7 linked regions of the Homo sapiens genome follow. The protein of the gene in region 1 purifies or fractionates together with the protein of each later gene. This does not show direct contact. Each region holds a gene or a part of one and is shown in the gene's direction. Other genes may lie near its edges. The genes, in order: NADK2, PEDS1, TIMM9, POGLUT1, MPST, ERMAP and SLC29A3.

The links.
Region 2: the proteins of NADK2 (region 1) and PEDS1 fractionate together in Homo sapiens (co-fractionation; one large-scale study listed by BioGRID). This does not show direct contact.
Region 3: the proteins of NADK2 (region 1) and TIMM9 fractionate together in Homo sapiens (co-fractionation; one large-scale study listed by BioGRID). This does not show direct contact.
Region 4: the proteins of NADK2 (region 1) and POGLUT1 fractionate together in Homo sapiens (co-fractionation; one large-scale study listed by BioGRID). This does not show direct contact.
Region 5: the proteins of NADK2 (region 1) and MPST fractionate together in Homo sapiens (co-fractionation; one large-scale study listed by BioGRID). This does not show direct contact.
Region 6: the proteins of NADK2 (region 1) and ERMAP fractionate together in Homo sapiens (co-fractionation; one large-scale study listed by BioGRID). This does not show direct contact.
Region 7: the proteins of NADK2 (region 1) and SLC29A3 fractionate together in Homo sapiens (co-fractionation; one large-scale study listed by BioGRID). This does not show direct contact.

The regions. Positions count from the first base shown.
Region 1 is NC_000005.10:36,235,245-36,239,428, reverse strand, and holds part of NADK2 (NAD kinase 2, mitochondrial), read left to right. Parts: intron 1-4,184. UniProt on the Homo sapiens protein: Mitochondrial NAD(+) kinase that phosphorylates NAD(+) to yield NADP(+). Can use both ATP or inorganic polyphosphate as the phosphoryl donor.
Region 2 is NC_000020.11:50,125,963-50,130,146, reverse strand, and holds part of PEDS1 (plasmanylethanolamine desaturase 1), read left to right. Parts: intron 1-456; coding exon 457-601; intron 602-1,959; coding exon 1,960-2,172; intron 2,173-4,184. Other genes in the region: PEDS1-UBE2V1 (TMEM189-UBE2V1 fusion protein), read left to right, coding at 457-601, 1,960-2,172. UniProt on the Homo sapiens protein: Plasmanylethanolamine desaturase involved in plasmalogen biogenesis in the endoplasmic reticulum membrane.
Region 3 is NC_000014.9:58,410,532-58,414,031, reverse strand, and holds part of TIMM9 (mitochondrial import inner membrane translocase subunit Tim9), read left to right. Parts: intron 1-2,060; 5' UTR 2,061-2,086; coding exon 2,087-2,125; intron 2,126-3,093; coding exon 3,094-3,189; intron 3,190-3,500. UniProt on the Homo sapiens protein: Mitochondrial intermembrane chaperone that participates in the import and insertion of multi-pass transmembrane proteins into the mitochondrial inner membrane.
Region 4 is NC_000003.12:119,478,574-119,482,757, forward strand, and holds part of POGLUT1 (protein O-glucosyltransferase 1 precursor), read left to right. Parts: intron 1-603; exon of another isoform or gene 604-1,101; intron 1,102-1,334; exon of another isoform or gene 1,335-1,477; coding exon 1,478-1,599; intron 1,600-4,184. UniProt on the Homo sapiens protein: Dual specificity glycosyltransferase that catalyzes the transfer of glucose and xylose from UDP-glucose and UDP-xylose, respectively, to a serine residue found in the consensus sequence of C-X-S-X-P-C.
Region 5 is NC_000022.11:37,026,061-37,030,244, forward strand, and holds the end of MPST (3-mercaptopyruvate sulfurtransferase), read left to right. Parts: intron 1-938; coding exon of another isoform or gene 939-997; exon of another isoform or gene 998-1,039; intron 1,040-3,155; coding exon 3,156-3,454; 3' UTR 3,455-3,755; downstream 3,756-4,184. UniProt on the Homo sapiens protein: Transfer of a sulfur ion to cyanide or to other thiol compounds. Also has weak rhodanese activity. Detoxifies cyanide and is required for thiosulfate biosynthesis. Acts as an antioxidant.
Region 6 is NC_000001.11:42,826,938-42,831,121, forward strand, and holds part of ERMAP (erythroid membrane-associated protein precursor), read left to right. Parts: exon of another isoform or gene 1-3,313; coding exon of another isoform or gene 3,314-3,511; coding exon 3,512-3,596; intron 3,597-3,830; coding exon 3,831-4,178; intron 4,179-4,184. UniProt on the Homo sapiens protein: Possible role as a cell-adhesion or receptor molecule of erythroid cells.
Region 7 is NC_000010.11:71,317,555-71,322,402, forward strand, and holds the start of SLC29A3 (equilibrative nucleoside transporter 3), read left to right. Parts: upstream 1-1,704; 5' UTR 1,705-1,755; coding exon 1,756-1,756; exon of another isoform or gene 1,757-2,177; intron 2,178-4,848. UniProt on the Homo sapiens protein: Uniporter that mediates the facilitative transport of nucleoside across lysosomal and mitochondrial membranes. Functions as a non-electrogenic Na(+)-independent transporter.

The DNA.
Region 1 (4,184 bases):
GGTGGTGTTGTCATTACAGTTTTATTGGATAAGTTCCTTACTGATTTGAATTTGTGTTATAGTTTATATAAAGGCCCATACTCAGAATGCAATAGCATTAGTTGTAGACCAGATGAGAGATTATTAACAGGCCAAAGAATACTGGGCTGTGTGAAGCTGTCCTAAAATGGGATTCTGTAATAGGAGTGATAAGATGATAAGTATTATTTGTTATATTGCTGGGGTAGAAAATACTAAGTTATGTGAATCATGTGAATTGGATGGATATAAAAGAAAGTGGCCAAGTGCTTGAGTCTCACCATGGCTGCTGTGTCTATAGTGTCATGGTAACTTGGTTTTTTGTCAAAGCATTCTCTTTTGTTGTCGTGGTGGTGGTTTTTTGATGTAAAACAGGTCTGTTTTAGGCTATTTGTTAAAATGCAAATGGAAGATGAAGGATAGAGTGCCAGTATAATTTTATACCCTGAAGGCTGATGATTTTCTAACTTTGTAGAAATGTAAACAATTACAGGAAATATTTTTTAGTTGATAAGGCATGCACAGAATAGGTTTACAACCTTCAAGCTAGTCAAAGTTTTGACTTTTATTTACCGTTTCATATTGGTTACATTGCTTTATTTTAAAATCTTGTCTTTTTCCCCATTGATTGACCAGTGACTTATTTTGTGATATCAGATTTCTGGTCAAACATTTTACCTCTACTGTCTCATGACCTTTCAAAGGCCAGTAAAACTATTATTACAATTTACTTGCATCATTAAGAGATGTAGCTGTTGGCAAATGTGCAATTGCTATTAACAGGGTCCTTGACACAAATTAGAACTCTAGATGAAACAAAACTGACTTGGAAAGGATTTTGACACCAGAAACATACCTCATTGGTCAAAAAAAGGTTTTATTTAAAGCTCTTTTTCACCTGTCACCAGGGATGGGGAACTGAATAAGGAAAAAAAATTTTAATGTAGAACAAATAAGAAGTCAGCAGTTTCTGCCCTCCTCTCCATCATTCCAGGTCTCACAACTCGGCAACCCTTTTACTGGTTCCTATTTTTAGTTTTGTTTTTTAAAATTCATAATGGGATAGAATAATTTCATTTAACAGTCTGCCGTGTTATTGGATTAAACTAGATGACTTGGAAGGTGTAGCACCTTGGATTTCCCTTTTGTTTTCTGAAGATTTTGTGGCTTAGGTTGTAGCACTTGGGCAGATAATACTTTTGCCACAGGGTATGCAATAAGCGTACCATGGTATACTTTTGTCAGGTGGTATACTTTTGCTACATTGTATGCAATAAGTATATTACATACAATATGATTGTTAATCAAATTAAAGAGCATGATTTGGAGTACTGCCAGAGCTTTCTAACTGAATCCTTGCTCCTCTCAAATCTTCTAGACACAGTTACCAGAGTGTCTATCTAAAGTGAACATCTGGCCCTTTCTCTCTTTTGCTTGGAACTCCACAGAAGCTCCCTGTACCCTTTAGTCACCAAGAGTACTTGTTAAAATGCAGACACCTGAACCTTAGCCCCGCAAGACTCTGACTCAGTTTGTGGAGAATTCCCAGACTTTGGTTTTATGAAGCACACACCTGAAATTAATGACTCCGGCTGAATTCCAGGGATGTGTTTTATCCCTGGTTGGCATGTGGTCCCCAGTTAAACTGAGAAACACAGTTGTGGGCTCAAGTTCATGATCTTTAGAATGGCAGATAAGTCCCTTCATGAACTGGCTATCTCTTGAGCTTCACTTCTGATCACTTCTTGTCTTAAATTTCATATTCTAGCAATTTCAAACTGTGTTAATTTCCATTAGATGTTGTACTGATTTAGTTTAATTTATGGATCAGTAGCACATAAAATGATTCAAAATATAAAAGATACAAAATATTATACAAAGAAGTCTTTCTGTTACTTGTCATTTGTCATTCAGTTTTGTCCCTGGAAGTAACTGTTATCAATTTCTTGTGTTTTCTTCCAGAAGCAACCTATACCTACAAATCAGCACAGTGAAATATTCTTTTTCTTTGCCTCATCTCTTTTTATTCAATGATAATATACTATTTAAGCTATTATGTGCCTTTTTTTTTAGCCTAACAGCATTTGTGGAGATTGTCATAAAGAACATTCCCATTCTTTTTAAAAATAGTATGTATGTTACTTTATTTTGTGTCCTAATTTATCTTCTGCTATTAAACACATTCTGAAATGAATAACATTTGTGTTTATATGCATGTAAATCAAGCTCTAAGACAAATACCTAAAGTTGAAATTGTTGAGTCAAAAGCCTTGTGCATATAAAGTTTTAACAGATTTGGCCAAATTGCTTCCCTTAGAGATTATACAGATTTTTACTTTCACCAGCCCTGTATAAGGGGACTTATTTTTCCATACATAGTTCATTAAATTGTTGGGTCTTTGCCAACCTGGTGGGTGAAAGATGGTATTTCAGGGTGGTTGAATTTGCATCTCTCAGTGTCTATGTGTCTACTTTTGTAGCCTCCTTTGATTTGAATGCTCTTCTTCCTCTATCCAATTCCTGTTTTTTTTTTTTTTTTTTTTGAGGTTAAGCTCAGACATTACTCTCTCAGGATGCCATCCTTGGTAACCTTGCTGTGCCTCTGCCTTTCTCTGGCTACCAAGATTGTGTTAGGCATTCTTCACTTCATAATACTTATCTGTGATTATTTTCTTTTCTAAACTGTAAACTCTTTGAGGGCAAGAATTGCATCTCCTTTATCGTCCTCTCCACCCCCATACTTCCACTAAAAAAAGTAGTAAAATGTTTCTGATGTTCTGTTAAGATCATTTTTAGGTCTTTTCTCCTTGAGCCTGGGGACCAGCTTCCTTCTAGTCCAGGGCCTTATTACCAGCTGTCTGTCTTTCCAGATGTTAGCTGCTGAAAGCTTAAGTCAGAGTTTAAGCCTTAAGCTTTGGATTCTTTGATAGAGGTTTCGGGTTAAATGTCTTTGAAAAACATGAGCCCAAGCAAAAGATGATTTTTATTTGACTATGGGATTCTTTTTGGTGGGAGGGAGCAGAAAATGTTTTAAATTCTGTGGAACACAACTTGGAAAACAGAGGTTTAAGGTATACTCCCTTTCTATAAATACTTGCAGTTAAATAGGAAACTCACAAAGATGTAGAAGAATTAAATATCACAGTAGCTGAAGTGTCACCATTAGAGAATCATTGACCAACATGCTTCACAGCCCTGATGTTCAGCCTTCACTGTATATAAGCATTATCTAGGGGGAGGTTTTAAAAACTACAAATATGTGACCAGCCATGAGATTGCAAATAACAAAATTTTTCACTGTTATCATTTTACTATATTTTTAATTATATAAATTAACTTCTAATAGTTGTGTTTGATGCACATTAATCTCTTCTCAACTAGTAAAGTGTAAATTGACTTTATTTGTCACTATCAGTGAACTTTGTAATGTACAACGGAAATATATAATTTCAAAATATCAGCAAGTGTGCCAGTTATTTCACGCTTTAGGAAAATTTATTTTTTATATATATATATATATATATTTTCTTCATAATAAACCACTAGATATGGATTATGCAGGAAAATAGACCAATCTTTGTAAAACATTTGCATTGAAGGAGGGTTCATCCAATTGGCTCTCCTCTTCCTAAATGAAAGGTGGTAGAATTAGGTCCTGATAAAGAACAGAATAGTTGTTGAGTTATGTAACTTAGTCATCACAATTGAGGCTTAGTGGCCTAATGAGTATTCACAGTTCTCAAGCAGGAGTAAGATATATGGCTAATGTAGGAATGTTAGTAGTATGTGGCTGCATGGATATAACAGAGTAGACAAATCCTGCTTTAACAGCAGAAGATCAGAGTTTTGATCCTGAAAGCACAATCTGATGTCTTTGTAATCTTGAGCAAGTAACCTAACCTCTCTGAATCAGTCTCTTTGGCTTTGAAATATTTATAGTAATACCTGCTTTTCCTTTCTCACATAATTTTTAGAAAGGTGAAATAATTTACAATTTACATAATTTAACTTAAAGCTGCATAATCTAATTCCAGTTTAGCCACAATAATGATCATTATGTAAATGTTACATATATTTAAATTATGTACCTGAAATAGCATTGATTTGGTTAACTCCAAAGTAGATTCCTTTACTAAGATAGATCACTTAAGTGAACTAAAAATATG
Region 2 (4,184 bases), on another chromosome or scaffold:
GGCCAGGCCTGGTCACGTGTTCTTTCTCAGCCCGGGGCGAGGTCAGCCTTGTCAGAAGAGCCTGGACTAAGGAGGGGAGGCTGTTACCCCAGCAGGTGCAGGGGGTCCAGAGGGTCCCACCTTTTACTTAGAGGGACCTCCTCAACTGCCTTGGGGTGGGGAGGAAGGGCGGAGGTTGTCTCCAAGCCCCCTTACAGCACAGGTAGGGAGACTGAGGCCCAGAGGCAGACAGTGCCAACCCAAAGCCCTTCCAGGGTCATTTCGGCTCATCTCCCCAAAGGCTGGATGGGGTCTGTGTCTGGCAGTGGGCCAGGTGGGAATGTTCAAGCATCCCGGGTGGAGGAAACTTAGGATCAAAGGCGGGAGGTGAGCCCAGGGTGAATGTGTTTAGGGGGCTGTGGAGAGCAGCTGACCACCTTAGGCTGACTGCTGGGGCTGTGTCCCCCTCAACTCCAGGCTTTCATCCGACCCTTCCGGGAGCACCACATTGACCCGACAGCTATCACACGGCACGACTTCATCGAGACCAACGGGGACAACTGCCTGGTGACACTGCTGCCGCTGCTAAACATGGCCTACAAGTTCCGCACCCACAGCCCTGGTGAGACACCCAGCTAGTGGTGGGCTGGGAGGGGGCCTTGGGGGCAGAGGCCGACCCCCAGGAGCCTTCTGGGGCTTATGTGTTTGGCTCCTTATGGTATTTTAAAAGAGTTTTCATTCATTGTCTTCATGTAAAATCAGGAAACCTGACATGAAGATGGAGGTTTCCAGCTTCTCTTGCACAATCTGCTCTGGCCCCCCTGGGTCCATGTTCCCACCTGGCCTCACTGGGTGGGAGCTGAGCTGCAGCCACTGCCTTTGACAGGACGCGTCTTTCCAGTTTACCACCGTCCCCACTATTCCTTGCTTCCCTGCACCCAACCCACCTTGTTCATTTGTGTTACCTGCCTGGCAGGGCTTCTGGGGTTTTGCTACCGTGGCCTAGTGGAAAATGTCTAGGCTGTGAAAACAGGGCCTGCCTATTTTTAGAGGGACTGGTCCCAAAGTAAGTGATTTCACCACTCTGAGCCTCAGTTGCCTTATCTGTCAGGTGGAGGTAGGTTGGGGCCCGGTCCTGTTCCAGCACCTTAACACCCATTTGTTCTTCAGGCAGCCTCCGGTGGGTAGAGGTGGTGAGGACGTGTAGTGTAGTGGGTGCTATGGCACCCTGCCCATCCCCTTCCCTGGGGGTGCACCCAGCCCCTGCTTCTGTGAGTGGTGGCTGCTGACAGCTCCCAGCTTCTCCAGGGATGGAGGGGAGGTCCCACCTGTCTCCTTGGGATAAGGCTGGAGCCAGTGACTGAAACGCCTCCGACGCTAGTCCCTTTGCCTCTGAGTGGGTCTAATTCTAAAGAGCCGTTAACACCTCAGAGCTCCTTGCAGGAACAGACTGAGACAGGACGCCACCCACCCCATCTTTGCTCTGCTCTTCCCCTGCCGTGTCTTGCTTCCCTCCCTCCCTTCGAGGTTTTTTCCTGAAGAGGCTCCCTTGATAAATCACATGCACAAGAACCTGTTTCAGGCTCCGCTTCTAGGGAACCTGGGTGAAGGCATCATTCCCATTTTCCTGATGGGGAAATTAAGCTTCTTAGAGGCAGAGTCACCGATCCAGCCCATACTGCCAAGAAATGTCGGCAGAGATCGGAACCCAGCTCCAGCTGACTCCGGTCTACATTCCCAGCCATTGCCATGCTTATGCCATTATCCTATTACACCATTACGCCTGCTTCCTGAGCAGGAGGAAAGCCTGAAGCCCAGGGCAGCACCTGAGCTTGCCTGCGGCCCTGCAGGGGGTGGAAGAGAATCCTGGGTGCTTGCCCAGCTCAGGAGCCGCCCAGGAGCAGGTGGTGAGGGCCATTTGGGGTGGGTTCCCCGTCCCGAGTGACAGCTGTGCCGGCCCCCCCTCTCCCCAACCTGCAGAAGCCCTGGAGCAGCTATACCCCTGGGAGTGCTTCGTCTTCTGCCTGATCATCTTCGGCACCTTCACCAACCAGATCCACAAGTGGTCGCACACGTACTTTGGGCTGCCACGCTGGGTCACCCTCCTGCAGGACTGGCATGTCATCCTGCCACGTAAACACCATCGCATCCACCACGTCTCACCCCACGAGACCTACTTCTGCATCACCACAGGTGCGGCCACCAGTGGCGTGGAATGGGCTTTCCCCACCCCAGCCACTGCACCATCTTCGAGGTCAGGAGGGCAGAGATCACAGCAGGAGGTCACACAGTCCTTGCCCTCTGGGAACAGTCTCTCAGGTCATGCATTTATTGAGCACCTACTGTGTGCCAGGCACTATTCTAGGTGCTGAGGACACAGTAAATGAGACTGACAAAGCCCTCTCCCTCGACTTCATGGCGTTGTGATTCCAGCCACCCATCATCCCGTATTTATTGAGCACCTACCACATGCCATGGTGCTTTGGGCGTAGGCTCCTGCAGCAAACAAAATAGCATGAATCAGCTGGGCGCAGTGGCTCATGCCTGGAATCCCAGCACTTTGGGAGGCCAAGGCGGGTGGATCACTTGAGGTCAGGAGTTGGAGACCAGCCTGGCCAACATGGTGAAACCCCATCTCTACTAAAAATACGAAAAAAAATTAATTGGGCTTGGTGGCAGGCACCTGTAATCCCAGCTACTCGGGAGGCTGAGGCAAGAGAATTGCTTGAACCTGGGAGGTGGAGGTTGCAGTAAGCTGAAATCGCACCACTGCACTCCAGCCTAGGTGACAGAGACTGTCTCAAAAAAAAAAAAAAAAAAAAAAAAACCAGAAAACACGGATCCTTGCCCTTGTGGCACTCACCATCTAGTGAGGGAGCTGGAACGAATGAATAAAATGTGTAGCGTGGCTAATGGTGCTAACTGCTATGGAGGAAAATAAAGCAGGGGTGGGAGAAGGAAGTGGGGGCTTTGCCTCTTAAATCGGGTGGTCAGGGAAGGTGACACTTGAACAAAGACCCCGAGGAGCTGAGGGACAAAGCCGTGCAGACCTCTGTGGGAGGCACTCTAGGCAGCAGGAACAGTAGGTGCGAAGGCCCTGAGGCTGGCCTTTGCTTGCTTGGTGTGTTTCCGGAATGGCAAAGAGGCTCCTGACTGGAGTTGAGGCAGAGCAATGGAAGAGGGAGAAGCGGGCAGAGCAGTGGAAGAGGGAGGAGAGAAGGGGGCAGAGCAACTGAAGAGGGAGGAGAGAAGTGTGGGAGGGCCCTGAAGATAGATGAGCACAGATTAGAGCAAAGGTAACAGGAAGCAGCAGGCCAGAGGCAGGAACATGCCCAGTGCAGTGGAGGAAGGGAAAGGAGGCCCACGTGCCATGCTCAGTTAGCAGCCAGTGCGAAAGAGGTGAGGTGAACTGGGAGTTTCTCTGGAGCCAGCTGGGCTGCTTTCAAGGTTAAGTGTATCAGGTGCTGTCAAGTCTAACTCAGGCCTAACTCTCAGCTTCTCCACATGTGCCTTTAGGCAACTCACAAACCTCCCTGGGGACCGCTTTTCTCCTTACAAAATAGGGCTGCAGCCGCCTCCTTCATATATCACCTTCTTAGGGCCATAGTGGGAATGGCAAATGCGGTGTTTGGCATATAGTAGGTACTTGATAAATTACAGCTACTATTTTTTTTTAGGTCTTTCTGGAAACAGAACTGAGAACCACAAAAAAACATTCTTTTTCATGTCCTCAATTTGTGCTCCTTGGAAGGCAGGTGGAGGGATTAGAATTCAGGCTATTTAGGAGATGGGTTAACTACTTAGGCAGGGCTGAGTTCCAATCCTGGTTTGGCCACCTGCTAATTGGGAAACTCTTCTCTAAGCCTCAGTGTGCTCATGTGGAAAATGGGACTGATATTAGTATCTACCTCATGGTGAGCTGGAAGGCTGTAAGATTGTGAGCAATATTTATTCAGCACCTACTCTGCGCCTGGCTGTATTCTAAGCACTGAGGATCAGCAGTGAAAGAACATGGTGTTTTGCATTTTGGGGATAACGTTCCAGTTGGGGATTGGGGGGTGAACAAACACAGAACAGGAAAATAGAGAATTAACGAAGATGGTTACAGGTTATCATAAAGGCTATAAAGAAATGAAAGAGGGTGGCCTGTCATGGTGGTTCACGCGTGTAATCCCAGCACTTTAGGAAGCCAAGGCGAGAGGATT
Region 3 (3,500 bases), on another chromosome or scaffold:
TTTTTTTTTTTTTTTTTTTTTTTCTGAGACGGAATCTCACTCTGTCACCCAGGCCGGAGTGCAGTGGTGCAATCTCGGCTCACTGCAAGCTCCACCTCCCGGGTTCACGCCATTCTTCTGCCTCAGCCTCCCAAGTAGCTAGGACTCCAGGCGCCCACCACCACGCCCAGCTAATTTTTTGTATTTTTAGTAAAGACGGGGTTTCACTGTGTTAGCCAGGATGGTCTCGATCTCCTGACCTCGTAATCTGCCCGCCTCAGCCTCCCAAAGTGCTGGGATTACAGGCGTGAGCCACCACGCCCAGCCTATACAAATACAAATCTTTTATATGAAATGCTCAACCTTTTTAGAACTAGCCAGGATATAGTAAATAAATAATGTTATACACATTCTTATATCTAGATTAACTGAACCTAAGTCCTACATTTAGGATATGTGAAAATCTCAGGAATTCAGAAAGGCTTTTTTATTTACTTGTCTTCCCTTCCCTGTTGCCGCCACGTTAGATTATAATTAGAAGTCTCTGATTAGTCTCTGTGATTGCCCTTTTTGAACTAGAGAATGTGTAGTAGAATGTATAATTCCTGTAACTTTCTTTTAAAACTCTGAATATCCTTCATGAGGGTTGTCAATTTCTAAGCAAATGGTGTTTGTTAACTGGTGTTTGTTAACTATTAATAGAACCTTTGTATTTACATTGTAAAAGGATCATTAGTAGTAAGGGTCAGAGTTAAATTAGCAACTAATTTTAAGTGTATTTGGAGTGGCTCAGATATATGAATCTACTTTTTCAACAATAGATTTTATTAAATCTAAATATAGGCCAAGTATTTCTGATGAAAATTTAGCATTCAAATTGAGATGTGGTGTAAGTGTAAAATGCTCACCAAAATCAAAGACTTACTACCAGAAAAGGAACGTAAAATGTCTTATTAATACTTTTTATGTGATTGTATGTTGAAATGTTAAAATCTTTGATATTTTTGATGTATTCGACTGAGTATAATAGTAAAAAATTTAAAATAAGCAATTTGGTGACTAGTGGAATAGTTAAGTAATTTTAGGAAAACAGCAAAAATCTCTTGATTTCCTTTATTTTTCTTTTTATTATCATTATTATTATTATTATTTGAGATGGAGTCTCACTTTGTCACCCAGGCTGGAGTGCAGTGGTGTGATCTTGGCTCACTGTAACCTCAACGTCCTGAGTTCAAGCGATTCTCCTGCCTCAGCTTCCCAAGTAGCTGGGACCACAGGCACATGACACCACGTCTGGCCAATTTTTGTATTTTTTGTAGAGATAGGGTTTCACTATGTTGGCCAGGCTGGTTTTGAACTCCTGACCTCAAGTGATCCACATGTCTTGGCCTCCCAAAGTGCTGGGATTACAGGCATGAGCCACCACACCCAGCTTTTTTTAATTATTTTTTTAAGCCCAAACTTCACCATCTTGGTTTCCTTTATAACCCTCCTAGGAATGGGGCTTTAAACAAGCAGCTTAGCAAGGTAGCAGAGCAAACTATCTTAAAACTGGAGATTTTGATAGACAGGGCCTTTGAGTCCCAAACTAGCATTAGAAAATCTAATTCTCTGGCCGGGCACGGCGGCTAACGCCTGTAATCCCAGCACTTTGGGAAGCCGAGGCAGGCGGATCATGAGGTTAAGAGATCGAGACCATCCTTGCCAACATGGTGAAACCCCATCTCTACTAAAAATACAAAAATTAGCTGGGCATGGTGGTGTGTGCCTGTAGTCCTAGCTACTCAGGAGGCTGAGGCAGGAGAATTGCTTGAACCCGGAGGCAGAGGTTGCAGTGAGCCAAGATGGCGCCACTGCGCTCCAGCCTGGTGACAGAGTGAGACTCCGTCTCAAAAAAAAAAAGAAAATCTAATTCTCAACTGTAAGGTTCTATGGTCATTAATGATCTGAGAAATTGGGGGTGGTGGCATACAATTACATACACAGATTTATAAAATACGAGCAGTGATTCCCTAACTCTTCAGTTAGACTAAAAACATTTGTTTATAGATTGACAAACTTGTTTTGAATTTTTAAATTAGGTGACTAATAAAGGTACCAGAAGAATATGGCTGCACAAATACCAGAATCTGATCAGATAAAACAGGTAAGGTATTCTAATTAAGGGGAAAAGATTTTGCAAAAAAATGTAAGGTGCTACTAATGCCACCATGTCAGGCTGGGTGCAGTGGCTCACATCTGTAATCCCAGCACGTTGGGAGGCCCAGGTGGGTGGATCACATGAAGTCAGGAGTTCAAGACCAGCCTGGCCAACATGGTGAAACTCCGTCTCCTAAAAATACAAAAATTAGCTGGGCGTGCTGGCGCACACCTCTAGTCCCAGCTACGTGGGAGGCTGAGGCACAGGAATTGCTTGACCCAGGAAGCAGAGGCTGCAGTGAGCCGAGATCGTGGCATTGCACTCCAGCCTGGGTGACAGAGCAAGACTCCATCTCAAAAAAAAAAACCATGTCAGTGGTTTCACAAAACAATTGTTTCTATTTCATTTCCAAAATGGATATTAAATGTTATAAAGTGTACGTATTTTTCTTGTTCTTTTTTTTTTTGGACACAGTCTCTCTTTGTCGGCCAGGCTGGAGTGCAGTGGCACGATCTTGGTTCACTGCAACCTCCATCTCCCGGGCCCAAGCAATTCTCCTGCCTCAGCCTCCTGAGTAGCTGGGATTACAGGCATGCGCCACCACGCCTGGCTAATTTTTGTATTTTTATTAGAGACAGGGTTTCACCATGTTGGCCAGGCTGGTCTCGAACTCCTGACCTCAGGTAATCCGCCCACCTCGGCCTCCCAAAGTGCTGGGATTACAGGCATGAGCTACCGCACCCGGCCAAGCATATGTATTTTTAATCTGACTGATAATCAAGGAAAAATTAAATATTCAACTAGAAAATAAAACTATTCTGTAGATCATACTGTACCCATTTAAGTTAGCATAATAACTATGATTTCAAGTGTTATAGTATATTTTGTCTAAATATAAAATACCAGTAATTTAAGTTTCAAAGCATCTTTGTTTTAAAAACCAAATACTAAAGAACATTCTGGTTTGTTTGTAGTTTAAGGAATTTCTGGGGACCTACAATAAACTTACAGAGACCTGCTTTTTGGACTGTGTTAAAGACTTCACAACAAGAGAAGTAAAACCTGAAGAGGTATGAAAAGTGTTACTCACTAAAATTCTACAAGCCTTCATAAACACTCTAAGTAGGATCCCCTTAAGCATTTCACTTGTTCCTACTTATTACAGGAATTTAGACTACCTTTTATGTTCCATTGCTTGGAAGAACTGAAGCAGCCACTGAACCACGGCATTGAGTTTAACAGTGCCAAATTTAATGACAGTTACATTGTACCAAGTCAGACCATTTTAGAGAAGATGCCTGCAGCTGCTGAGTTACTGTTTCACAACAAAGATTCTTACTAATTAGCTTTCAGCCAAGATGGCCTACCTAGAGAAACTTGG
Region 4 (4,184 bases), on another chromosome or scaffold:
CCTTCTGTTTTTTAAATCAGTGACTTCTAGTTTCCAAGGGAGAGTTTTACTCTGTCAACTTTATAGTTAATTGTGCAGCTTCTATTGAATAGCTGTTATGTTTAAGGTGCTTGATGAATCACATTTTTTACATATTTGAGAGACAGCAAACAGCATATTGCACATGTATTTCCAGTGGAAGAAATAGTAGAGTTAGAGGTTTATCAGTGGCCAGATTTTTAACAGAAGTAACCATAAAAAGGGAACAAATGGAGGCCAGGTGTAGTGGCTCACACCTGTAATCCCAGCACTTTGGGAGGCCGAGGCAGGTGGATCAAAAAAAAAAAAAAAAGGGGGGAACATATGGCTTTAAACTTTTTTCTTTTTTTTGAGGCAGAGTCTCACTCTGTTGCCCAGGCTGGAGTGCAGTGGCGCGATCTCAGCTCACTGCAACCTCCACCTCCCAGGTTCAAGTGATTCTCCACCTCAGCCTCCTGAGTATCTGGGACTATAGGCACCTGCCACCATGCCCGGCTATTATTTTGTGTGTATTTTTTAGTAGAGACAGGGTTTCACCATGTTGACCAGGCTGATTTCAAACTCCTGACCTCAGGTGATCTACCCGTCTCGGCCTCCCAAAGTGCTGGGATTACAGGTGTGAGCCACCGTGCCCAACCTCAAACTTCTTTCAAAAGATATGTGATAACACCCCTTCTCATTTTGCTCATCCATACTTCTGACCCCGATCAGTGAATAACCAAGAATTTATTGACCAATCAATGTGAGCCCAACAGTGCCATAGTATGAGATAACACTAGCCAATATTTATCAAGTATGTACAATGTGCCAGCTACTGTTCTAAGAATTTTACGTGTATCAACTCATTTAATATTCAAAATAAACCTTTTAGTTAGATCATATTATTGATATTATTGTTTCCCCCATTACAGTGATAAGGAAGCTGAGGCATAGAACCATTAAGTAACTTGCCTAGAGCTGTAAAGAGGTGGAGTCAGAATCCAAACCCATGTGATCCACATCAGGAGCCCACACTCTTAACCATTGCATGTATTTCTTGGCTCTTACTCTCAAAAAAACCCATTGGGAAATAACCAAAAACTGGTAAGACAGTGTAAACTCTTAAATGTAATAGTTAAACAATGAGAGAGCTCTGTGATTATTCAGAATTGGGCATATTGTTTCCTTAAATTGGAAATCTTAACAGTATATATCCTCTAGAAAAACAGAATTTGGGGGAACTGAAAAAGCTGACCTTTAATGTGATTCTGAATTCTGGAATTCAGTGAGCCCATGACTTTTAATCCATAGTCACTTTTGCCTTTTAATGTCTACAGGCTAGACTTTGGAAAATAGGGAAAATATATCTTTGACAATGTGACACTAAACCAAGGCTGTCCAGATCCTGTGGCATGATTGCAGTTGCCTCTTTTCACTGTTCCAAGACTGATTTAGGACGACCTGTCTGTTTTTGTTGAAGACATCAGAGTACCATGATATCATGTATCCTGCTTGGACATTTTGGGAAGGGGGACCTGCTGTTTGGCCAATTTATCCTACAGGTCTTGGACGGTGGGACCTCTTCAGAGAAGATCTGGTAAGGTAGGTCCTTTAAAGAGGTTTTATTTTTTCTCTTTCTGGGTTTTCTTGAAATAAGCCATAGAATATAACCAATTATTTACTTTTTTTTTTTTTGAGACGGAGTTTCGCCCTTTTTGCCCAGGCTAGAGTGCAATGGCGTGATCTCAGCTCACCGCAACCTCCGCCTCCCAGGTTCAAGTGATTCTCTTGCCTCAGCCTCCCGAGTAGCTGGGATTACAGGCATGTGCCACCACACCCGGCTAATTTCGTATTTTTAGTAGAGACGGGGTGTCTCCATGTTGGTCAGGCTGGTCTTGAACTCCTGACCTCAGGTGATCTGCCCACCTCAGCCTCCCAAAGTGCTGGGATTACAGGCGTGAGCCACCGCGCCCAGCCTATTTATTTTTAAGTGACTAATTTTTAAGTTAAAAATTAAAGACAGAAAACTGTAGTGTAAACAATTTTGTACGTGTCTAATAATATTTACATATCCATAGAAAGGGGCAGAATAGTCTATCCTAAACTATCAGCAATGCCTCTTTGCAAGGGATTATCAGAGACTTTTGTTTTGTATTTTAAATTTTTCTTTCTTTTTTTTTTTTTTTGCGACACAGTCATGTTCTGTCTCCCAGGCTGGAGTGCAGTGGTGCTATCGCGGCTCACTGCAACCTCTGCCTCCCAGGTTCAAGCAATTCTCTTGCCTCAGCCTCCCGAGTAGCTGGGATTACAGGCATGTGCCACCACACCTGGCTAATTTTTTGTATTTTTAGTAGAGATGTGGTTTTGCCATGTTGCCCAGGCTGGTCTGGAACTCCTGGCCTCAAGTGATCCACCCACCTCGGCCTCCCAAAGTGCTGGGATTACAGGCACGAGCCCCTGTGCTCAGTCAGTATTTTCAATTTTTCTATACTTAAGATTCTTTAAATAAGAGTGCATTCTTTCATAGTAAGAAAAAATGAATGACCTCGTCATAGGGGGGATAGAAAATTATTTGGAAGAATATAAACATACTTGGCAATTGAGAGCTAAGTAGTTTAGGCAGGGCTGAGGGAGCATAAATGTCCCATAAGCATCTCAAGTACAAGCTTATTCCAGATCCTCTCTGATTCATGACTGAGACATGCCTTGGCCTGTTGACTCCATCCTGCTATCATTTCAGAATTTAGATTGTGTAGCTCATCCAAGCTGTAGGTATTTCTTACCTAGCTACATTTTACATCATGATTCAAACAACTTTGGTGCTTAATTAGAGAACTTCCGGAAACACAGTCATTATAGGCCTTCTCTCAGGTATAAGGAAAGCAAACAATTCAACCTTGTTTCCATAAATACCTATCACCTCTCCCAAGTGTGGCTGAAGATTCAAAGAGGATTAAGGTAATATTCCCTTCCTGAAGAAACGTACAGGGCTGCAGTCCTCAGTGGTGGGTAGAGCCCTTTGTTAAAAAACAAACTTCTCTAGTGGGTATAATTTGGAAATTTTAAAAAATAATAACTTAGTCTCATATTTTACAGAACTGGAACTAGAAATTGTCTTTGTCCAGCCCTTTATTTCAGGGATAAGGGAATGAAGGTACAGAAAGGTTTAGTGATCTGGTCAAGGTCAGAAGCAAATCTAGGCCTAAAGACCAGGTTTCCAAGTGCATTATCCAACCTACTTTACTGGTTAATATTCCTTGTGTTTTCCTGACATTGAGACTGTCATTTCTTGTTTATTTTTGGGTTTTGAACATAATTTTGAGAGGGGGGGAAAAAGGTGTGGTTTTTTTGTTTCTTGGTTGTTTTTTAAAATTTTTTGTAGAGACAGGTCTTGCTATGTTTCCCAGCCTGATCTCAAACTCCTGGGCTCAAGTGATCCTCCCACCTTGGCCTCCAAAGTGCTGGGATTACAGGCATGAGCCACCACACTAAGCTGGAAAAAAGGTTTTAAACTTTTTTTTCCCTAAGTTATTCTTGGCCTTGGCCTTAATTTTCTAATCCTTTCCCCCCCTCCTCAGGTACTTGCAAATACCCTTTTCACATTCTTCTTTTTGTAGCTCTTTTCCCACCTGCCATGCAGCTGCTTTGTTTTCAAAATCTTTAAAAACATTTTTACTGATTATGAAACCTATATATGCTCATAAAATTTTACAAATATGTATAACTCAGGCAACTTTCCCCCTAACTTATTGGTGTATCTAAGTAATCTTTCCATGTCTTTGTTTCATGTCAGTACATATGAAAGAGTCACTTTATTTATTTGTTTGTTTGTTTATTTTTAAAAGGCAGGATCTCACTATGTTGCCCAGGCTGGACTCAAACTCCTGGGGTCAAGGTGTTATCCAGTTACTCCACCGTGTAGTTATTAATACCATTTTCCCCCAGGTAAACTAGTAAGCAATTTTTAGGCAGATAGAATGTTTTAAAGTCTAATCTTATATGAATACTTTTTTCTTTTGATACCTTCCCATTTTATTCAATTGAATTTATTCATGGTTATAGAAATACAATTTTGTTTTTTAGAACCCTCTGTTTAGAATCTCTAATGATGTTCATTTGTTACCTTGAAAATTTAATAATCTGCTTGTTTATCCATCTGCACTGATGTCTGCCTGCCACTGTTCATT
Region 5 (4,184 bases), on another chromosome or scaffold:
ATTTTTGAACCTACACAGGTGTCAGTTTCATGTGGTTCAGCCTAATGAGAGCACCACCTTAATCCTGTTGGGTTCTCCATCTCAGCCCCAGGGGAATGAGCAACACAGGGGAGCTAGCTGGTGGTGCCAGACTGGGGTTCAGATCCCTGCCACATTTACATGGGCTTTGTGACACACGACGGGTCATCTAATGTCTCTGAACTGCAGCTTCTGCCTATGTAGAATGGGAGCAGTAACACAGAGCATAAAGACATGATAGGGGCAAGGAGAGCAAGTGTGTAAAGCACTCAGCTCCGGGTTTTCATGCACAAGTGTGCTGCACACTTGTGCCTGACACTTATTCAGTCGCACTAGCTCATCTATAGAATGGGAGGTGATACACGCCTAGCAGGCTTGTTGTCAAAACAAACTAAGCTCACTGCAGCTGGATCAGTGATGAATGTCACTGTCGTCATCATTCCCACTCCACAGCCTGAGGCCTGGCCAAGTGCTCCTGTGATGTGCCACACCAGTCCAGCAGGCAGGGGAAACATGCTTTGCTTGGTGGGATTCAAGGTGTAGGGATGGCCCTCCCTTTACAGTCACCACCCTGGGTTGAGAGTTTGTTCCTCCTCCTTGCTCTGGGCTGGTCTCTATGTGATATCTGACCAAGCCCGGTAACTGTGTCTGTTAGGTGGGATGCATGACCCATTCCAGCCTCTCCACAGACTCGGGAGTGCTGTCTCTATGCCAGGGTCTGAGAATAGATACCGATACATGGGTCAGCAGCTCCTGTGGGGGTGTCACTCCACTGCGGAGGGAAACCAAGGCAGAAGCTGGACAAGAGTCTGAATGGCTCAGATTTGAATCATTCGTTTTTGGGGGGTTTTTTGTTTGTGTTTGTTTCTGTTGTTGTTGTTGTTATTGTTTTGAGACGGAGTTTTGCTCTTGTTTCCCAGCTGGAGTACAGTGGCGCAATCTCGGCTCACCACAACCTCCGCCTCCCGGGTTCAAGTGATTCTCCTGCCTTAGCCTCCCGAGTAGCTGGGATTACAGGCATGTGCCACCACGCCCGGCTAATGTTTGTATTATTAGTAGAGACGGGGTTTCTCCATGTTGGTCAGGCTGGTCTCGAACTCCCAACCTCAGGTAATCTGCCCCCCTCGGCCTCCCAAAGTGCTGGGATTACAGGCGTGAGCCACCGTGCCCAGCCCAAGCGTTAGTTGTGAAGGTTTATTTTGTTGCAAATCCCAGTCCTGCATGAAAATGGGAATGTTAGTAACCCCTGCCTCAAGGTGGGGCAGTGAAAACAAAAAACACCCTGGGAGTCTGCAGAGGTGTGGGCCTTTCCCATCCCATTCTTTCTGCTACAATCAAAATGATCGTTTAAAAATGGAAATCTAGGTTGGGCAAGGTAACTCCTACCTATAATCCTCACACTTTGGAAGGCTGAGGTGGGAGGATCCCTTGAGCCCAGGAGTTCAAGACCATCCTGGACATGATGGCAAGCCCCTTCTCAATAAAAAAAATTAAAAGTAACAGTAAAAAAGTAAACGCAGAAGCCTGAGTTCCCCCTGCAGTCAGGTCAAAGCCCCCAAGTCTTACTCCAGGCCTGCTAAGGCGTTCCCATCCCCTTCAGCTTCCCCTTTGGGCCTCTGGCTTCTCACTGTCTGGGCTTTCGTGACAATGACCTTTAACCCCTCCGGGCAACAGGTGGTTCCCTCGCCTTTCAGATTCCCTCTGCCTGGGATGCTCTAGGCCTCCATCCACCCAGACCCCTTTATGTGACTGAATCCTACTCATCCTTCGGGGCATTCTCAGAGAAACTTCCTCCACCCACTGAGCCCCCAGCCAGTGTGGCGTGAAGGTGGGAAGCATAGACTTGCCTGGGTTTACTCCTCCCTGCCCTCTGCTAGCTTGCACAAGCTAGTCTTTGTACTTCATTCTCTTCATCTTTACAAAAGAGAGGATAATAATTTCTTTCCCAGAGAATTTTGGGGTGGATTCAAGGAGAAAGTATAGCTGACCGTCTCCAAACAGTGCCTGGCAGAAAGTAAGCATTCAATAACATCAGCTATTGGCCAGGCAAGGTGGCTTACTCCTATATTCCCAGCACTTTGGGAAGCTGAGGCAGAAGGATTACTTGAGGCCAGGAATTCAAGACCATCCTGAGCCACATACTGAGACCCCATGTCTATAAAAACCAAATTAGGCCAGGCGTGGTGGTTCACACCTGTAATCCCAGCACTTTGGGAGGCCAAGGCAGGTGGATCATCTGAGGTCAGGAGTTCGAGACCACCCTGGCCAATATGGTGAAACCCCGTCTCTACTAAAAATACAAAAATTAGCCAGGTGTGATGGGTGCCTGTAATCCCAGCTACTCAGGAGGCTGAGGCAGGAGAATCACTTGAACCCAGGAGGTGGAGGTTGCAGTAAGCCAAGATCATGCCACTGCACTCCAGCCTGGGCAACAAGAGCAAAACTCCATCTCAAAAAAAAAAAAAAGAACAAAAAAAGGAAATTAGCTGAGCATGGTGGCATGTGCCTGTAGTAGTCCCAGCCCCTCGGGGGGAAGCTGAGGCAGGAGGATTGCTTGAGCCCAGGAGGTTGAGGCTGCAGTGAGCCTTGATCATGCCACTGCACTTCAGCCTGGGCAACAGAATGAGACCCTGTCTCAGTAATAATAATATCAGCTATTGCTGTTACTGGCGTTATTTTTTTTTTACATGCCCCAGGCCACCCAGTAGGGCACTTTTGGAACACCCATTATGCTTGTAATTATTCAGTTGCCTGTCTGCCCTGCCAGATTAAAGCTCCTTGCCTGCAGGTACTGCACGTTCTAGCTAGGCAGGGGTCTTGTTTATTGCTTTGCTGTCCCTAGGGTGCATAGTCAGGAAACCTTGGGGCCCAGTTCTTAGGTTCAAAGTTCAGTCAGCAATTTGCTAGATGTGTTAGCCTCAGGTGGTACTTAACCTCAGCATCACCGTGTATAAAATGGGGGCTCCTCTAAACAGTGCTCAGGTTTTATGGTTGTGAGAATTAAATGAGATGGTGGATATAAAGGATTTAGCACCATGCTTGCATGGGATGCTCTCAATATCTCGAGCACCACAAATACGAGGTACCATTCATAGCATCCTTCTATTTGTCCCCTCCTCCCTGCTCCCCTGCTGTAGGCATTGAACCTGGCCACATCCCAGGTACCGTGAACATCCCCTTCACAGACTTCCTGAGCCAGGAGGGGCTGGAGAAGAGCCCTGAGGAGATCCGCCATCTGTTCCAGGAGAAGAAAGTGGACCTGTCTAAGCCACTGGTGGCCACGTGTGGCTCTGGCGTCACAGCCTGCCACGTGGCACTAGGGGCCTACCTCTGCGGCAAGCCAGACGTGCCCATCTACGATGGCTCCTGGGTGGAGTGGTACATGCGCGCCCGGCCCGAGGATGTCATCTCAGAGGGCCGGGGGAAGACCCACTGAAGCTGGGCAGGACACAGGCGAGCTCAGGTGATGCCGGCCACCAGCAATGCCTGGCCTGGTAGCTCCGCTTCTGCTTTCACCAAGAGAGTGTTTCTTCACTCAACTCAGGTGGCATTTGGGGTGACATCTCAAAGGCCAGGAATTCCGTTGACTTGTTGGCTGCCAGTAGGGGCGGGAGGAAAGGCGGAGGCGAGCCCTGGAGGAGGGAGGCCACAACTCCGAGCTGCCCACCTGGTGCTGAGCTGGGGCCCCGCCTCCTTTCTGTTTTATTTTTGAGGAAATAAAATAACCAAGTGCTAAATCTTGTAGCTCTGGGGCTGCCTCGGTTTTCCTAAGGAGCCAGGGGTTCTGTCATGCCCAGCAAAGGTCACTCTGGGGAGCCTGAGGGTCTTGGAGATCCTGTCTCTGCCTTCCAAGCAGTGCTGGGGCCCCAGAGCTCCCCACTTCTGTGACTGAGCTAGCCCCTAGCAAGCTGTCCCTCACCCCATAATCCTGGGCGTTCTCCCTTCTGGCATCTGGGCTATTTAAGGTGAATTTTGCTGTGACATGTCTGTGGTCCCACCCAAAGCTACTCTCCCACCACCTGCCCTTCTAGCAGGTAAATAGTACATCTCATTTCCAGAAGAAGATGGGGCCAGAGCTTAACAGAAGCCTGTGCCATGCCAAGGAGGAATGTCCCAGCCCAGCTGGGATGTTCTAGGGAAGGGCTAAGCTGAGCTGAATTGGAGGA
Region 6 (4,184 bases), on another chromosome or scaffold:
CAATCCACTGTCACTTATAGCAATGTTTATAATAGCGATGTATTGGAAAACAACCTAAATGTCCTCAATATAGAATTATTTTAAAGCTTTTACATCTTATATCCTAACTTCTAAAATTCTATGTCCATGATGGAATCCTAAAGTCATGTAAAGAAGATTTGATTGCCTTGGGAAATGCACATAATGTAGCACTTGGTGAAAATATCAGGTATCAAAACAGTATATAAAGTATTTATTTACTTATTTATTTAAGACAGGGTCTTGCTCTGTCATCCAGACTGGAGTGCAGGGGCGTGATCATGGCTCACTGCAGCCTTAACCTCCTGGGCTCAGGTAATCCTCCTACCTCAGCCTCCCAAGTAGCTGGGACCACAGGCACATACCACCACAGCCAGTTGATTTATTTTTATATTTTTTTGTAGCAACAGGGATTTGCCATGTTGCCCAGGCTGGTCTCAAACTCCTGGGCTCAAGCAATCTTCCCACCTCTACCTCAAAGTGCTGGGATTACAGGCGTGAGCCACTGTGCCCAGTCATGGTTTTTGTTTGTTTGTTTTACAAAAAGTTATGTACATGCATAGAAAGAATATTTATAGAAACATTATCTTTGGGTGGAGGAATTACAGATGATTTGACATTTTTGTCCTTGTTTTGGATCATTTCCAGATTTTCCTACAATAAGTAAGACAGAAAAAGCCCCAAACTGTGGCATATACATTGAACTTTAGGAAGTGAAATCATATTTTATATTTGTTGGGGAAAATTTCTTTGTAAAGGAGTTCCATGATAATCACTCAGTAAAGTGTGGTGGTCATTTGCTCATTTTATAACTCATGATACAGGGCTATATAGGCATGCATTCATTCATCTGTTTATCCATGTTTTACATTCTATCTGCTTCCAGAAAGGATCCCGGCAATTCACTTGCATGGTACCCTGAAGTGTGTATGATTGCCTTTCCTGTTCTAAGTGTAAAAGAGAATAATACCTACTTTTCAGAGATGTTGTCAGTACTGAAGACAATATATATGGAGAAACAACAAATGCAATAAATAAGAACTATTATTGATTTAGAGCAATATCATAATTAGAAACATATTTATGATTTAGTGTTACTTCACAGCCATTAATAGGATGTTGACTACTATAATATTGATATGTTACATGTTAGAAGAGATGGAGGAAGGGGCCATCCTGGCAAACTAGATTAGAAGAATAAATCCTGGAGGTCAGTATGGTGACCAGATGGTTCTTACATCTGTGTAAGAAAATATGAAAAAAAGGACCTGGTAGCACTTCTTACATGGAGTGACAATCTAACAGAAGGACTTCATTTGCTTTTTATTTCCAGCATCTGGTGCAAATCATTTTACATGTATTTTCTTTGATCCTTACTATAACCCTATCTATGAGGTAGGTACTATTATTAACTTCATTTCATGTGTGAGCAAGAGGAGGTTTGGAGAAGTAAACTAACCTGTCTAAGGCCACCAGTTAGGAAATGGCAGAGCCAGGACTTGAACCCAGGCTGACTCTAGAGCTCATTCTTTTTTTAAAAAAATTTTTTTTTTTTTTTGAGACAAGGTCTTGCTTTGTTACCCAGGTTGGAGTGCAGTGGTGCAATCACAGTTCACTGCAGCCTCAACCTCCCAGGCTCAAGAAATCCTCCCACCTCAACCTCCTGAGTAGCTAGGACTACAGGTGCGTGCCACCATGCCAAGCTAATTTTCTTTTATTTTTTGTAGAGATGGAGTCTCACTATGTTGCCCAGGCTAGTCTCTAACTCCTGAGCTCAAGTGATCCTCCTGCCTTGGCCTCCCGAAAGTGCAGGGTTATAGGCATGAGCTACCATGCCCAGCCTAGAGCTCACCCTCTTAACCACTTCATAGATTGTCTGAATCTTGGAATATGGGTCCATAGAGGTCTCCTTCTATTTGATTTCAGGCAGCCTTGGGTTAGCTTGGAGCTCTGGGTCACTCTGAGCATGTCTACCCAGGGTGTGCTTCAGAGTCACTAGAAAGTTGAGGGGTTTTGGGATTAGGGATAACGCCAGGGAATCCTGGGCCCTACTTCCACCTTCAACCATAATTGATAAAATAGAGAGCTTTTCTCATTTACTTAACTTCTCTTGTCCAGTTTTTGAGTAGCTAGTAACCTATAGGAAAGTGGGTGGGACAGTCACAAAAAAATGTGTCCTAATGTGATCCTAACCTCACTATGACCTAGTGCTATGTTGTCATTTGCTTAGAGGGGTATGTTGTATAAAATATGATTTAAAGAAAAACAAGAACAACCCTAAACCAGTGTGCTTTTTGCCATGAGAAAACAGAATTGGGTGTTTAAAATGAGAATGTGTTCAACGCTAGCTTCATCTTCAGTTTCCCAGTCTCCCTTTGACACCCCCTCCGTGTGTCATGACCTTTTCCATGACCTTCAGGGACTGGGCCTTCTGACTTATACAAAAGCCTCCTCTTTGGAAAGGATTTGAACCTTGGAGAGAATTTAAGAGATGAGTTGCCTTTTCCTAGAGCATTTACATTTTAAACTTTATGCTCACTTGTGGCATGAGAGATTCTGTTTCCTGCTAAAGCAATTTCAGGCAGTAGCAAATAGGTGGGGAAAGAGCTTTACAGGAGGAAATCCTTTAGGGTCTCCCTGTGATTCATGCACACGGTCATCTGGACCTGCTAGGGATAATTTTCCTCACTTGGTTAGTAATAATAACAACAACTACACACTTATGAGCAGTTGTTCTGCCAGGCATTTGTGGCCAGTGCTTGGCAGGCAGTATCTTTTTGAACCCTCACACTCATCTGTGAGGACAGTTTCCCTTCATAGATTAAGAACCCGAGGTCCAGAGATGTTATGCAACCTTCCTAGGGACACAGAGCTAGTAATAGGTAGAGCTAAGATTTGAACCCAGGTCTTTCCAGCGCCAGACCCTGAATTTGTAGGATTAGTGCCTTCAGGATGACATGGAGGGACCTCACTGCCTTGATCTGTTATTTATCAAGAGTCAAACTGGAAAAGGCTGTCAGGGAAACCTCCAGGCTGCATCTTGGGCAAAGATTGGCTTGAAACAGGCATTTCCCAAGCCTGGCCTTGGACACCAACTGTAAAAAAAAGGCCATTACTGGTGTTTCCTTGGTTAGTTCTGGGTATAAGTTCTGGATCCTCACTCATCTCATCTGCACTGACATCCTCACTCACGGCATTTAGAGACTTAACACGCCAGCCTCTGTGTGAGCATTTACCTCTTTCAACCCTCACCATAATCCCACAAGGAGGCACAGTTCTTTTACCCATTTTGAAGATGAAGAAACACAGTCTCAGAGAAGTTCGGTCACAGTATCACAAGGAGGTAAGTAGCAGAGCTGGGATTGGAGCCCCGGCCTTTGTGATCCCAGAGCACCAGCAATACCGTCTCGGCCTCGGCTCCTGGGTTATACCCTCTGTCACGCCAAGCCCATCAGCCCGCTTGTGCTGTCTCCCTCTGTCTGTCCTAGTTCGGATGGAGATGGCGAGTTCTGCTGGCTCCTGGCTCTCTGGCTGCCTCATCCCTCTCGTCTTCCTCCGGCTGTCTGTGCATGTGTCAGGTAGGAGTTTCTGATCCTCTTTCCCTGCCTGGTACATGTGATATTGGCGTCCCCAGAATAAGGAAGCTTGGCTGGAAACATTATGTCTTTTGGGGTTCTGTTCCCCCGGCCCTGGCAATCCTTTCCAGAGTCCTTCCTGGGCTCTGTCCGTCCCCGGGATATCCTCTTCCTCATCCCTTCCCAAGCTTTCTCCTGCCGTCCCTCCCAGTTGGCCTTGTCTCTTTTTTTGTCCAGGCCACGCAGGGGATGCCGGCAAGTTCCACGTGGCCCTACTAGGGGGCACAGCCGAGCTGCTCTGCCCTCTCTCCCTCTGGCCCGGGACGGTACCCAAGGAGGTGAGGTGGCTGCGGTCCCCATTCCCGCAGCGCTCCCAGGCTGTTCACATATTCCGGGATGGGAAGGACCAGGATGAAGATCTGATGCCGGAATATAAGGGGAGGACGGTGCTAGTGAGAGATGCCCAAGAGGGAAGTGTCACTCTGCAGATCCTTGACGTGCGCCTTGAGGACCAAGGGTCTTACCGATGTCTGATCCAAGTTGGAAATCTGAGTAAAGAGGACACCGTGATCCTGCAGGTTGCAGGTTAGA
Region 7 (4,848 bases), on another chromosome or scaffold:
GGGGGGGTGGAATCAAATGGGAGACTGTTCATGAAAATGCTCTGTATATTAGAGGATTTTTTTCCAACGTAAAGAGGCTAAAAATAAGGCCTGATGACTAAACTAACATATACACTATCACATTTTGGGGGTGGGGAGTGTCTTCCTTGGAAGTGATGGAAATTTGCATTGAGTGCCTGGCATGGATCACCTGACTTAATTCTCCCGACAGTCCTAAGCCGACCCTGGGTTTCAGAGAGGTTTAGTAATTTTACCATTATCCCTCAGCTTGTAAGCCTGGAGCTAAGCCCCTTCCTCTCCTGGGCCGGGGGGCTTTCTGACAATTTAGGGTGCTAGTCTCCAAACTCGCCTGCTGGTGGAGCTTGTTAAATAGATCCATTCTGGATCCCCATTCTGCACCCCCTGAGTGATGGGTTGTATTAATCCAGGTATTTATTGAACACAAATTATGTGCCCACGATGAGGGAAGAGCAAACAAAGCAGATACAGCACCACCCTCAGGGATTGGGGAGTGGCAGCAACCCTCCTGGGGAGAGGTCCCCAGAATCTGGATGTGTACTCGAGACTTTTATGATCAGGCCAGTGTTTGGGGAATGGTGGTTATAAAATGAGAGGCTGGGGCAGGGAGTGGGGATGTTCTGAGAACCTGTCCACACACTGACAGCCTCAATGGGTTCTGTGGCACCCCTGAGCCCTGGGATGGCAACTGCAAGAATTTACTATCCATGGTCACAGATCTTCAGGCCCTGTGAAGCATCCAGATCCCCGCTCTGAATAGGCCAACTGGGCCAGGACCGGGAGTCAGGAAGGTTTCCGCCTTTTTTTTTTTTTTTTTTTTTTTGAGATGGAGTCTTGCTCTGTCGCCCAGGCTCCAGGCTGGAGTGCAGTGGCACCATCTCGGTTCACTGAAATCTCCGCCTCCCGGGTTCAAGCGATTCTCCTGCCTCAGCCTCCCACATAGCTGGGATCACTGGCACGCACCACCATGCCCGGCTACTTTTGTATTTTCAGTAGAGACGAGGTTTCGCCATGTTGGCCAGGCTGGTCTCAAACTCCCGACCTCAGGTGATCCGCCTGCTTCGGCCTCCCAAAGTGCTGGGATTACAGGCGTGAGCCACCGCGCCCGGCCCCTGCTTTCTTAAAGAACACGCGGCAGCTGTGTGTTACACGCTATGGCTGAGGTCAAGTGTGAGGGCTGGAATTGCTGACTGCCATGTTCTGGGTCTACTGAAAATAGCTGCCTGGCCTGGGAGGCCCAGTTCAGTCCGGGTGTGGGTCCCGCTTCACCTCCAGAGCAGCGGCAGCCGGTAAGGGTAGAAGCGGCCTTTGGAGAGGGGTCTCTGCAGCGGCCTGGGGACAAGATGAGGGCTCCTTTGAGTCCTGGGGTGCAGGTTATAGTAGCTAAAGGGGAGGTCTGAGACAGTGGGGTCTGGCTCCAAGGTAAAGAAGGAGCAGCAACCAAAAGGCCTGATGCGCAGCGCACCCATCGCAAGCATGGGCAGTGCGTTTAAGACTGGGTGACTCACTTTTTCTCCTATAAAATGGGCGCACGCAGGCCCCAGCTCAGCGCCAGAAGGGGGAGCCCCGGCGCGCCGGCAGAAGACAAAGGAAAAAAGCGTGTTTGCAAACGGGGAAGCGGCGGCGTGCTGCCGCGAGGGGCGGGGCGGGGCCGGGGGAGGAGCCCGCCTGCCGCCTGCCAAGCCCAGTGGTCCTGGCCGTGCGCCGGAGGCAGCGGCGGCGTGGCGCAGCGGCGACAGTAAGTGCGGGCCGGCTCGGGCTCTTCCGGCTACGGTCCCGGCCGCCCCCAGACTCGCGCTCAGCGACCTCCCTCCCGGGCCCTGGGGGCGGCTGCGGGCTGCCAGGGGAGCCGCAGGACCCTACCCCATCCGTGGTCCCTTCCCCACCGTCCCTCCTCTCTCTCCTTGCTCTCTGCCACCCCTCTTTCTGGGTCTCTATCTTCTCTTCCCCAAATCCTCTCCCCTCCTCCTCCCTGAGACTGGACCTCACCGCCTGTATGGTGGGGGCCTGGTATGGACCCGTCGGCCCGAAGTATCCAGACGGTGGCTGATTCTCTCGGTCCCAGCTGCGGGGCCTGAGGCTGGGGCTGTTTACACCGCAAAGCCGGTTCTGCCGCGGCCAGTAGGCGGTGCCCTGCGCTTCCCAGTGCCTTCCCACAGGTTAGCCCTACCAGCTCCCCACCCCGGTTCACAGCCCAGGAGATCGAGGCACAGAGGGGCGAGCCACCTAGCCAGAGTCAGGAACCTCCTTGGAACCAGCACCCAGGCTTCCCAGCCCAGATGAGGTTTTGCCGCGGCCCCAGCAGTGCCTGCCTCCTTGTGTGGGGCTGTCTGTCTGTGCATGGCCGGGCTCCCGCAGGTGACCCAGGAGCACGTTCCAGGCCACAGCCAGCTTGTTTTGGGGAAGGTTGGGCACTTCCTTGCCTGCCTTTCTCTTTATTTTTTAATCCAGAAGCCAGCAGCTAGCTTTTATAAAGACTAATAAGACTTTGCTCACTCCAGTGCCCTGGCCTGTGACCCTGGTTAGAGAAAATTCCTGGCTCCTTCTTCAGAAGCTCAGTCAAGCCTTGACAAATAGACGCTAGGAACTGAGAAGGGGGCCCTAGCCAGGTGTGGTCCTGAGTGACAGGGCTGGTGGACCTTCTAGCCGCCCCCACAGGTAGCTGGAGCCTCTGGAAAGAACCACTTGCCGGTTCTCTCTTGTTCTATGTGGGTGGGTCATGATTATTTTTTACATTTTAAACACTAATTTTTAAAATGTAACAAGTGAGCTTGTTACATTTGTACCATTTTGTGCCAGACAAAATAGCATAGACTGGGTGGCTTAAACAAAATTTGTTTCTCATGGATCTGGAGGCTGGGAAGGGCAAGATCAAGGTGCTGGTTGATTTGGTTTCTGATGAGGGCTCTCTTCCTGGCTTGCAGACAGCCTCCTTCTTGCTGTGCCTTCACATGGCTTTTCCTCTATGAGTGGGTGCATGTGGAAAAAGCGATTTTCCACACAGTGAGCTTCCAGACAGTGAGCTTGTTAATGCTGGCCTCCATGCGAATCCAGGCTGGGGAGGGGCTCTGCTAACCAGGGGAGTTTAAAATAGACTTGCTGGCTGGATGCATTGCACTTGGGCATCCAGTGGCCCCCCACCTGCTGGCTCCAGGGTACATGCTACCCCAGCAGGGGAGAATGTCCTGGTCGTGCAGAGTCCGTTCATTCAGCAAACATTGACAAGGGTGCCTGCAGTGTGCCTGGGCCCCTCCCGACTCACTGGCTTCAAGGCTTGCAGGAAGGATGCCTGTACTTGGAACCAGCAGACACAGATTCCCATTCCCAGCCAGTCCTCCCCGGTGTGCTGAGGAGTCCAGCATGGGCCCCAGTCTGCTTGGCTGTGTAACTTCACTCTTGTCATCTACTAGTTATGTGACCCTGGGCAAGTTACTCAACCTTTCTGAGCCTCAGACCCCTCTGTGAAATGGGTCTTAGAGTAGTACCTAATATATTAGGCTGTTGTCAGCCTCAAGTGTGACCTCTGTTAGGCACAGACCTTGGCATTTGTGATCACTGGACTTAAGTTTAGCTATTGGGAGTTCTTTCTATTTGTGGGACATAGCAAGTGCCTTCCAGACCTCAGTTTTTCCATCTGAAAAAAGGGGGCAATGTTTTCTGCCCTGCCTAATTCCAAGGGATGCTCTGAGGTTCTCCTGAAATAGTGGATAAGGTTCTGCACCCATGTGAGGAGGTGTTCCCATCCCACCAGGGAATAAAGGCCCCAGTCTTCTTGGTACGATGCTTTGAGTTAGGCTTAGCCTCCTATAGAAACCAAGATGCATTTATTTATTAGTTTATTGGGTGGGGAAGAGGCTACTGCAGAAGGGACTCTGAAGTGTCCCATCCTCAGCATTTTGGAGACATTTCTCATTTATCAAGCTGCTGCCACATCCTAGGTGCTATGTAGAGCAAAGAAGCAGGCATGCTACCTTACAGCCAAATTCAGCAGCCAGCCAGCCAGCCATGCGACAGGCCCAGGATGCCAGGGAGATGCTGACATTTGTTCAACAGCTGCTTATAGGCCAGGCATTGCCAGCCAGTTGCAGTTGCATAACTATCATAAAAACAGCTTCTCTGGGTTTACATTTGGGGAAATTGAGGCACAGAAATGTGGTAACTTGCCCAAGGCCATGTAGGCAATAGTTGCTGGCAGCCTAGGCTCTTCCATTTATCTTAGGCGCTACCATAGATTGAAAGTGGCTGGCTCCTTGTAGGGTGTGATGAGCAGAGGTGGGACCCAGGCAGGAGCTGCAAACCCAGGCTTGGCCATTTACGTGGCCTATGGCCTTCAGTTCTTTGGACCTCTCTTTCCTCACAAATGAAATGGGAATGGACTGTCAGAGGCTACACACCAGCTTCTGGAGGCAGCCCTGGACACTACCAGTTTTTTAAACAATTATTACTTAATTTGAATTTTTTTAAATTTACACTTTTAATTTTGTTTTTGAACCGGTAATAAACTAGTCACATAGTTCAAAATTCAAGAGACACAAATAAGAATGCAGGGAAGTCCCCCTCCCCGCCCCCCACCATCCCAGTTTCCCTCCTTAGAGACAGCCACTGTTAGAAACTTCTTATGTAGCCTTCCAGAGATATTCTGTGCATATACAAATACATATGTGTATGTATATTTTCTCTCCCCACTTTTTTTACACACATAGTAGCATATTCTACACACCATCCTGCTCCTTATTTCTTTCACCTGAAATCGAAAAGGGTTTAGAGATCATTCTTTGCCCATTAAGGGTCCTAATTCTTTTTTATGGCTGCACAGAACTGTGAATGCCC